Linked DNA regions of Homo sapiens: region 2 is linked to region 1. The links come from fine-mapping of genetic effects on plasma protein levels. Region 1 holds a variant in brackets. A gene starts in the other region. All regions are shown on their reverse strands. Region 1 overlaps CMKLR2 (chemerin chemokine-like receptor 2). Region 2 holds the start of CCL28 (C-C motif chemokine ligand 28).

What was found. A credible set is the group of variants that fine-mapping cannot tell apart. PIP is the chance, under the fine-mapping model, that this variant and not a neighbour inherited with it causes the effect. Protein levels are from antibody-based Olink assays in UK Biobank. Linkage for the fine-mapping came from a reference panel and not from the study's own genotypes, which makes the PIPs less certain.
Region 2: CCL28 starts here. The variant in region 1 is the best candidate, but not a certain one, in a credible set for the plasma level of the CCL28 protein (UK Biobank, PIP 0.62).

The regions. Positions count from the first base shown.
Region 1 is chr2:206,173,829-206,178,223 of GRCh38, reverse strand. CMKLR2 (chemerin chemokine-like receptor 2) reads left to right here. Exons shown (of 2, transcript NM_001389445.1): 2 at 949-2,908. The coding sequence starts at 977. The coding sequence ends at 2,044. Among named protein-coding and RNA genes, the nearest start is that of SNORA41, 14 kb to the right of the region's middle. The variant A/G (reference allele first, on the strand shown) is at 1,895.
Region 2 is chr5:43,410,428-43,414,822 of GRCh38, reverse strand. It overlaps CCL28 (C-C motif chemokine ligand 28), which reads left to right and starts at 2,432. Exons shown (of 3, transcript NM_148672.3): 1 at 2,432-2,570. The coding sequence starts at 2,507.

The DNA of each region.
Region 1 (4,395 bases):
GCTTGATCATAGCTCGCTGCAGCCTCAAACTCCTGGGCTCATGCAATCCTCTTGCCTTGGCCTCCTGAGTAGTTGGGACTACAGCATGAGCCACTAGATCTGGCTATTTTAAAAATTTATTTTTTGTAGAGACAGGTTTTTGCTATATTTCCCAGGCTGGTCTCAAGCAATCTCCCTGTCTCAGCCTCCCAAAGTGCTGGGATTACAGGTGTGAGCCACTGTGTCTGGCTGAAATACAGATTTTGAAGCTATCACTCTGTAAGTATTAATCCGTTTTCTTTTGCATCTGCCATAAAATAATAATGCATAGTAGGAATCTAATAAATGCTTGTTGAATTCTCTCTAGTCAGCCCTACAAGCATTACGAACTGAAGAATTATAACCGTAGAGTCATTCATTTTAATTTAGCAAGTACTAAATACTTTACAGAAAGGAACTCTCATGCTGGGAGAATGATAATCAGAGTGAAACTGAGGCTCACCAAGACTTGAACATATGGAGTATAACCACAAGTCCTATCAAAAAATATACTATATTTGCTGGGTATAGTTGCTCATGCCTATAATCCCAGCACTTTGGGAGGCTGAGGTAGGAGGATCACTTGAGCCCAGGAGTTCAAGACCAGCCTGGGCAACATAGTGAGACCTCATCTCTACAAAAAATTTAAAAATTAGCTGGGCATGGTCATGAGCACCTGTGGTCCTAGTTATTGGGGTGGCTGAGGTAGGAGGCACTTGAGCCTAGGAGGTCAAGGCTGCAGTGAGCCAAAAGCATGCCATTGCACTCCAGCTTGGGCAACAGAGTGAGACCCTGTCTCAAAAAAAAGAAAAAATAATACTATGTCTGGTCCATAACCTGAAATATTTTTATCTTCACGTTCCTTATCATTCACTGAACTTTTATTTTTCTTTTAAAATTTTTTCTTTCTTTTTAAATTTGCTTCTACAGATTTCTTCATTCTCCATTTAGCAAGGTCATGGAAGATTTGGAGGAAACATTATTTGAAGAATTTGAAAACTATTCCTATGACCTAGACTATTACTCTCTGGAGTCTGATTTGGAGGAGAAAGTCCAGCTGGGAGTTGTTCACTGGGTCTCCCTGGTGTTATATTGTTTGGCTTTTGTTCTGGGAATTCCAGGAAATGCCATCGTCATTTGGTTCACGGGGTTCAAGTGGAAGAAGACAGTCACCACTCTGTGGTTCCTCAATCTAGCCATTGCGGATTTCATTTTTCTTCTCTTTCTGCCCCTGTACATCTCCTATGTGGCCATGAATTTCCACTGGCCCTTTGGCATCTGGCTGTGCAAAGCCAATTCCTTCACTGCCCAGTTGAACATGTTTGCCAGTGTTTTTTTCCTGACAGTGATCAGCCTGGACCACTATATCCACTTGATCCATCCTGTCTTATCTCATCGGCATCGAACCCTCAAGAACTCTCTGATTGTCATTATATTCATCTGGCTTTTGGCTTCTCTAATTGGCGGTCCTGCCCTGTACTTCCGGGACACTGTGGAGTTCAATAATCATACTCTTTGCTATAACAATTTTCAGAAGCATGATCCTGACCTCACTTTGATCAGGCACCATGTTCTGACTTGGGTGAAATTTATCATTGGCTATCTCTTCCCTTTGCTAACAATGAGTATTTGCTACTTGTGTCTCATCTTCAAGGTGAAGAAGCGAAGCATCCTGATCTCCAGTAGGCATTTCTGGACAATTCTGGTTGTGGTTGTGGCCTTTGTGGTTTGCTGGACTCCTTATCACCTGTTTAGCATTTGGGAGCTCACCATTCACCACAATAGCTATTCCCACCATGTGATGCAGGCTGGAATCCCCCTCTCCACTGGTTTGGCATTCCTCAATAGTTGCTTGAACCCCATCCTTTATGTCCTA[A/G]TTAGTAAGAAGTTCCAAGCTCGCTTCCGGTCCTCAGTTGCTGAGATACTCAAGTACACACTGTGGGAAGTCAGCTGTTCTGGCACAGTGAGTGAACAGCTCAGGAACTCAGAAACCAAGAATCTGTGTCTCCTGGAAACAGCTCAATAAGTTATTACTTTTCCACAAATCAGTATATGGCTTTTTATGTGGGTCCTCTGACTGATGCTTTCAGATTAAAATTGTTTCCAAGATAGAGAGCCGACTCCACTTTCATAGTTATTGTTTCTGGTCACTATATAGGCATCACATTTTTGTGTGGATATGAAACTTAGGAAGGATCCTCTTGACTCCTTGTGATGTGGCAATAAATTTTTTTTAAAAAACTGAAAATACTTAGGAAGGATCCGCATAATTTTTTTCTGCAACTTAAATGAAATGCATCATTCTTGTTAATTATACCATGGTGAATTAATCACTTTTGAAGCAATATCAGTTATTTTTTGAATAATAACTTTTCTAAAGCCTTAAGTCTTAATATTAAATATATGATTAGCCAGGCACGGTGGCTGACACCTGTAATCCCAGCACTTTGGGAGGCCAAGGTGGGGGGATTACCCGAGGTCAGGAATTCGAGACCAGCCTGACCAACATGGAGAAACCCCGTCTCTACTAAAAATACAAAATTAGCCGGTCATGGTGGTGCATGTCTGCAAACCCAGCTACTCGGGAGGCTGAAGCAGGAGAATCACTTGAACCTGGGAGGCAGAGGTTGTGGTGAGCCAACATCACACCATTGCACTCCAGCCTGGGCAACAAGAGTAAAACTCTGTCTCAAAAATAAATAAATAAAATAGATAAATAAATATATGATTAACTAATTTTAAAAATGTTAAAATGTATTCTTAAATTCATTTTAATTTTGTACAATAACCTGCTAGACACATTTTTAAAATGCAACATGTGTACTTAATTTCTTTATGTAATCTATGTATATACATTTATGAATTAAAGTAATTGTTGGTTATCTTAAAACATCTGTTCTAGTTAATGATTTGGGAGATTTTTTCTTCTTTCTCCCACTCTCTCTGTTTTTTATAGTAGGAACAGCCTTTATTGGTTGCAATGGGAAGTGGAAGAGGAGGGGATATGACAGCTCATGTTCCTGGGACAGTGTCCACAAATACCGTCGCCACACTCCAAAAACCCAGTTAACTAATGATGCTTAATAAACTCCTCCTAAACCTAGTTCTTAAAACAGTTTATACTTTTGATATAATTCTCACAATTCTGAGGGTCAGGAATTCAAAGAAGTCAGAAAAGAGGTTCATCTCTCTCTGCTTTGCAATATCTGGAGCATCAGCTGGACTGAGATGATGCAAATCGAAGCTGGAAGCTGCCTAAGACATCCCCTTCCCTCCCTCCCTCTCCCCTCCCAACACAGCTATTCCACCATGGCATTTCAGGGTCGCCAGACTTCTAATGTGGCAACTCAGGGCTCCAAGAGGCCAAGGTGGAAATTTCTAGTCCTGTTAAAGGCTATGACTGGCACAGGTACAGTATCACTTCTATTGTATTGTATTGGTCAAAGCAGGCATAGACCAGCTCATGTTCAAGGGGAAGAGACACAGATCCCCATCTCTCAACGGAAAGAATGTCAAAAAAAATTGCACCAATCTTTAATCCTCTACGGTATCATTATAAACAGAAATGCTTTTAGAAAATTCTGGGTATCAGGTACCTATCAATGGTAGATTGGATAAACAAAGTGTGGTACATATACATCATGGACTACTGCACAGCCATAAAAAAGAATGAAATCGTGTCCTTTGCAGCAACATGGATGGAACTGGAGGCCATTATCCTAAGTAAATTAGTGCAGGACAGAAAACCAAATACTGCATGTTCTCACTTGTAAGTGGGAGCTGAGGCTGGGCTCGGTGGCTAATGCCTGTAATCCCCGCACTTTGGGAGGCCAAGATAGGCGGGTCACCTGAAGTCAGGAGTTCAAGACCAGCCTGGTCAACAAGGTGAAACCCCGTCTCTACTAAAAATACAAAAATTAGCCAGGTGTGGTGGCACGCACCTGTAGTCCCAGCTACTCGGGAGGCTGAGGCAAGAGAATCACTTGAACCTGGGAGGCGGAGGTTGCAGTGAACCGAGATTGCGCCACTGCACTCTAGCCTGGGCAACAGAGTAAGACTGTCTCAAAAAAAAAAAAAAAAAAAAAAAAAAAAAAAAAAAGCCTGGGCGGCTGGGTTCAGTGGCTCACACTTGTAATTCCAGCACTTTGGGAGGCCGAGGAGGGGTGGATCACAAGGTCAGGAATTCGAGACCAGCCTGACCAACATGGTGAAACCCCATCTCTACTAAAAATCCAAAAAATTAGCTGGGCGTGGTGGCATGTGCCTGTAATCCCAGCTACTCAGGAGGCTGAGGCAGAAGAATCACTTGAACCCAGGAGGTAGAGGTTGCAGTGAGCTGAGATTGAGCCACTGCACTCCAGCCTGGGCAACAGAGCG
Region 2 (4,395 bases), not on the chromosome of region 1:
TAGGAAATCACAAGGATATTGATTGGGGAAGTGATAAGGGTCCATGAAATCTTCACAATTTATGTTCAGAGATTGCAGTAAAGACAGGCGTAAGAAATTATAAAAGTATTAATTTGGGGAACTAATAAATGTCCATGAAATCTTCACAATTTATGTTCTTCTGCCATGGCTTCAGCCGGTTGGTCCCTCCATTCGGGGTTCCTGACTTCCTGCAACACTGGAGTGGCTCACAGAACTCAGGGAAATACTTACATTTAACGGTTTATTATAAGAGACAGTACAGAAGATACAGATGAAGGCCAGACATAGTGGCTCATGCCCGTAATCCCAGCACTTTGGGAGGCCAAGGCAGGAGGATCGCTTGAGGCCAAGGTATGGGGGAAGGGATGCAGAGCTTCCATGCCTTCCCTGGGCACGCCACCCTCTAAGAACCTCCACATGTTCAGCTATCCAGAAGCTCTCCAAACTCTGCCCTTTTGGGGTTTTACAAAGGCTTCATTACATAGGCATGATTAACAACCATGTAGAAATGTGATTAGACAAAAAGCACATAATCTAAACCCAGCAAGTCCTGCCTGTTCAGGCTTTTCTTGGCCTGTGTAGCATTCCTTCCTCTAGAGTATGGGACAGAACCCTTTCTGGAATGAGGATCTTATGACCCACAATCAGATTAGAGTCCTGCCTTGGGCAGGTGAAAGAAAAACAGAAGGTCAGAGAGAGATTCCGTTTCCTGAGGCCTGTTCCTGAAGCCTAAAGTGCCCCAACATTATAATATAAAAAAAAGACTGGGCTGGGCACAGTGGCTCATGTCTGTAATCCCAGCACTTTGGGAGGCCAAGGCGGGTGGATCACAAGGTCAGGAGTTCAAGACCAGCATCTTGCCAAGATGGTGAAACTCACTCCAGCCTGGGCAACAAAGCGAGACTCTGTCTCAAAAAAAAAACAAACAAACAAACAACAAAAAAAAACTGTAACAAGGGTTATGGGAGTTATAAGCCAGGAACCATGGATAAAAGCCAATATATATATCATAACACCACAACCCGAGACTGAGCAATTTATAAATAACAGAAATGTATTCTCTTACAATTATGGAGGCTGGGAAGTCCAAGATCAAGGCTCCAGTGATTTCAGTTTCTATTTCCAAGATGATGCCACTTTGCTGCATCTTTTGGAGAGAAGGAGCATTGTGTACTCACCTGGCAGAAGAGCAGAAGGTACCAACCCATTCCCACAAGCCCTTTTTATAGTAGCATTCATCCATTCATGAGGGTGGAGCCATCATAACCTAAACATTGTCCATTAGGCCCTATCTCCCAGCACTATTAGGGATTAATTTTCAACATGAGCTTTGGAGAAGAAAAAAATATTCAAACCACAGCAGTAATTTGAAAACATAAAAAGAAATGGGTGAAATTAATTTTAATAATATATTTTATTTAACCCAAAAAGTCCAAAATACTATCATGTAATCAATAAACAGTATAAACATTATTAACAAGATATTTTATATTTTTTTCTGTACCCAGTCTTTGAAATCCAGTGTGAATTTTATACCCATAGTACATCTGAGTTTGGACTACTCATATTTCAAGTGCTCAAGAGCCACATGTGGGCTAGCGGCTACCACATAGGACAACACAGTTCTAGAGGAAGCATGGCATGACTTTGGAGGTCATCTAGTCTGACTTGTTATTTACAGCAAAGTTAAGTACGTTGCCTGAGGTTATACAACTTATTAGTAGATGAGGAACAATTAGAATCCAATTATCTTCATGCTACCCCATGCTTTTATTCACAAAGCTGATTGGCAGCAAAGCTGCACTAGCGCTCATGCCTCTTCACACCTGCTCTTGGGCTCTTTTCTACAAGGCATTGCCCCCCTTCCTGTCTTTCTCCTAAATAAGCTATTGTAAAAAGCTTCACTGGAAACAATTTGGCTGTGAACCAAGACTAAAGTGGGGTTTAATACTTCCATATCTTTCCACAAAGATACATTTTTTATGACTTGTCACCCTTGTCCCCAGAAACTCATGGTTTCCATAAGCTACTTAAAAACTGATTATGCAATGGGTCTCAACATAAGTGTCCATCAGAATCACCTATAGAGCTTTTACAAAATTCAAATGACTGGTCTCCTACCTGGGAGTTCTGGTTTACAAATCAGGGAAAGGGGAGAGTCATTTAGATTGATTTTTTTTAATGTTCCCCAAATGATTCTGATGCACACCCCACCTCACAGTGACCCTGCCAGCTGCCAGATCTCCATTGACATCCCCTGACCCCCAGGCAGGATGAACACAAGTTAGGAGCTTAATAAGTCGAGGAGGAGCCTGGTCTTAAGGAAAGAAACATGAGAAATAGATACCCTGAACACCTCCCAGGGCGGGGCCACCTGGCTTACTTTTCCTCTGCACTTTCTCTGTGCCCAAGGACACCTTTAGCCTCATTTCCTGATCGAACAGCCTCACTTGTGTTGCTGTCAGTGCCAGTAGGGCAGGCAGGAATGCAGCAGAGAGGACTCGCCATCGTGGCCTTGGCTGTCTGTGCGGCCCTACATGCCTCAGAAGGTGAGTGGGGGCACTGGACACTTAGGCCTTCACTGGAAAGGGGGGTATCTCCCAAATCTGTGCTGGAAGGATTGAGGTGGGGCAAGAATATCTATCTCTTCAAGCAGGAATTTCCAATTGATTTCTGATTACCTACAAGAGAATGACATAGCTTTAAATTCTAGATCTCCCAGAAGTTTCAGGAAGGAACCTCATTCTAACAGGCATACTACAAATTTTTGCCACCTGGAGGATGAGGTCCTTCCATGTAGGTACAACTTCGAGCTATGTTTCCTTTTCTGAAGACAGTATCTTAGAAAATCCCCAGCTAGAGGCTGGAGTAAAGCCCCTACTATTCATCTGTCTTCCTCCACACCCCAACCTGCTAAACGGTCTGAACACAACTGTGCACATTCCTGGAGGGAAATACAGACTTGGCCAGCTGCGTTCAAATTAGGTAAGTTGTAAATTTCCTGAGCAAAGTCAGCTCTATGGATACAGAAAACTGAAACTTCAGTCTGACCTTTAAAAAGGGAGGGCAGAGCTGAGCACAGTGGTGCATGCCTGTATTCCCACCTACTTGGGAGGCTACGGCTGGAGGATAGCTTCAGGCCAGGAATTCAAGATTGCAGTGAGCTATGATCACACTGTGAATTGCCACTGCACTCTGAATTGCCACTGCACTCCAGCTTGGGCAACATAGTAAAACCCCATCTGTTAAAAACAAAAAGAGGGGAGGGGAGGGGAAAGAGAAGGAAAGGAAGAAAGGAAAGGAAAGAAAGAAAAAGAAGAAAAGCAGGATGAGGGAGATTGAACCATACAAATTATGTCAAAGAGAATTTAAATCGTGAGTTGCTAGCATGTATTTGGAGATTGTAACTGCATTTGAACTAGAGGGAATCTCTTCTAAAGTAGCACTCACTACTATATTCAGGAAACCCTAAGTGTCAGTACTTAATACTTGACCAATGACTCTTTTCCATTGTCATCTTTTCTTTAAGCTTTATCCTGAACAGATTCTCTAAGTCTAGAGCAGAGGTGGAATATAAGTCTTTGGTCTGCTTTTTAAAAATCTGAGCCAACATTTTAAAACTGAAAGCTTTCTCATGTACATACTCATACATACACACATACAAATTGGATTTTAAAGCTTCTCTTGAGAAATCAGATGTGGCAACAATGATTCCACCATACCATGGCAAGAACTGGCTAAAGCAGATGAGCCTCTGAAGTTTGCTGTATTAACTGCCTGGTCCCTGCAGGCATTTGCTTAGGGACTCCCAATATAGTCCGTCAATGTACTGGGCTTATACAAATAAGCAACAGAAAAAACCTGGACAATCTCTTCTCAATTTCTACTAATCTATCTATCTTATCAATATAAAGACAAAAATTTGTCACTTTATGTTTCTGTAACATTTCTCAGAAAAATTCACCATTGAGATTTGGGGACTCATTTTCACTATTTCTGAAAGGCCTACCTGCTAAGGCTTCACTCCTAGTTCTGGTAATTCCACCAACTCAAATTTTTTACATAAAACTTTGAAATGTGTACCTCCATCCAGCTTCCTGACCTACTCCCACCTGTCCCCACAGCGGCAGCTCTCCTACAGGAAAGGAGGGAGGGAACAGCAGGTCGAGGAGGCAGAGGGTAATGAGGAAGGCTCTGCCATACCCAGGACCCACCTTCACATGGGACTGAGTCCTGGTAGAGACGGTGGGGTGGAACGGCAAAATGCAGAGGTGTGTGAAAAGGTACGGCTGCTGGTGATAATAAGGAAGGGAGCCGAGAGACCCAGCAATAGCCTTTTGGGTTAGTCTCGATGCTTTACCTAAGGCAGTTTAG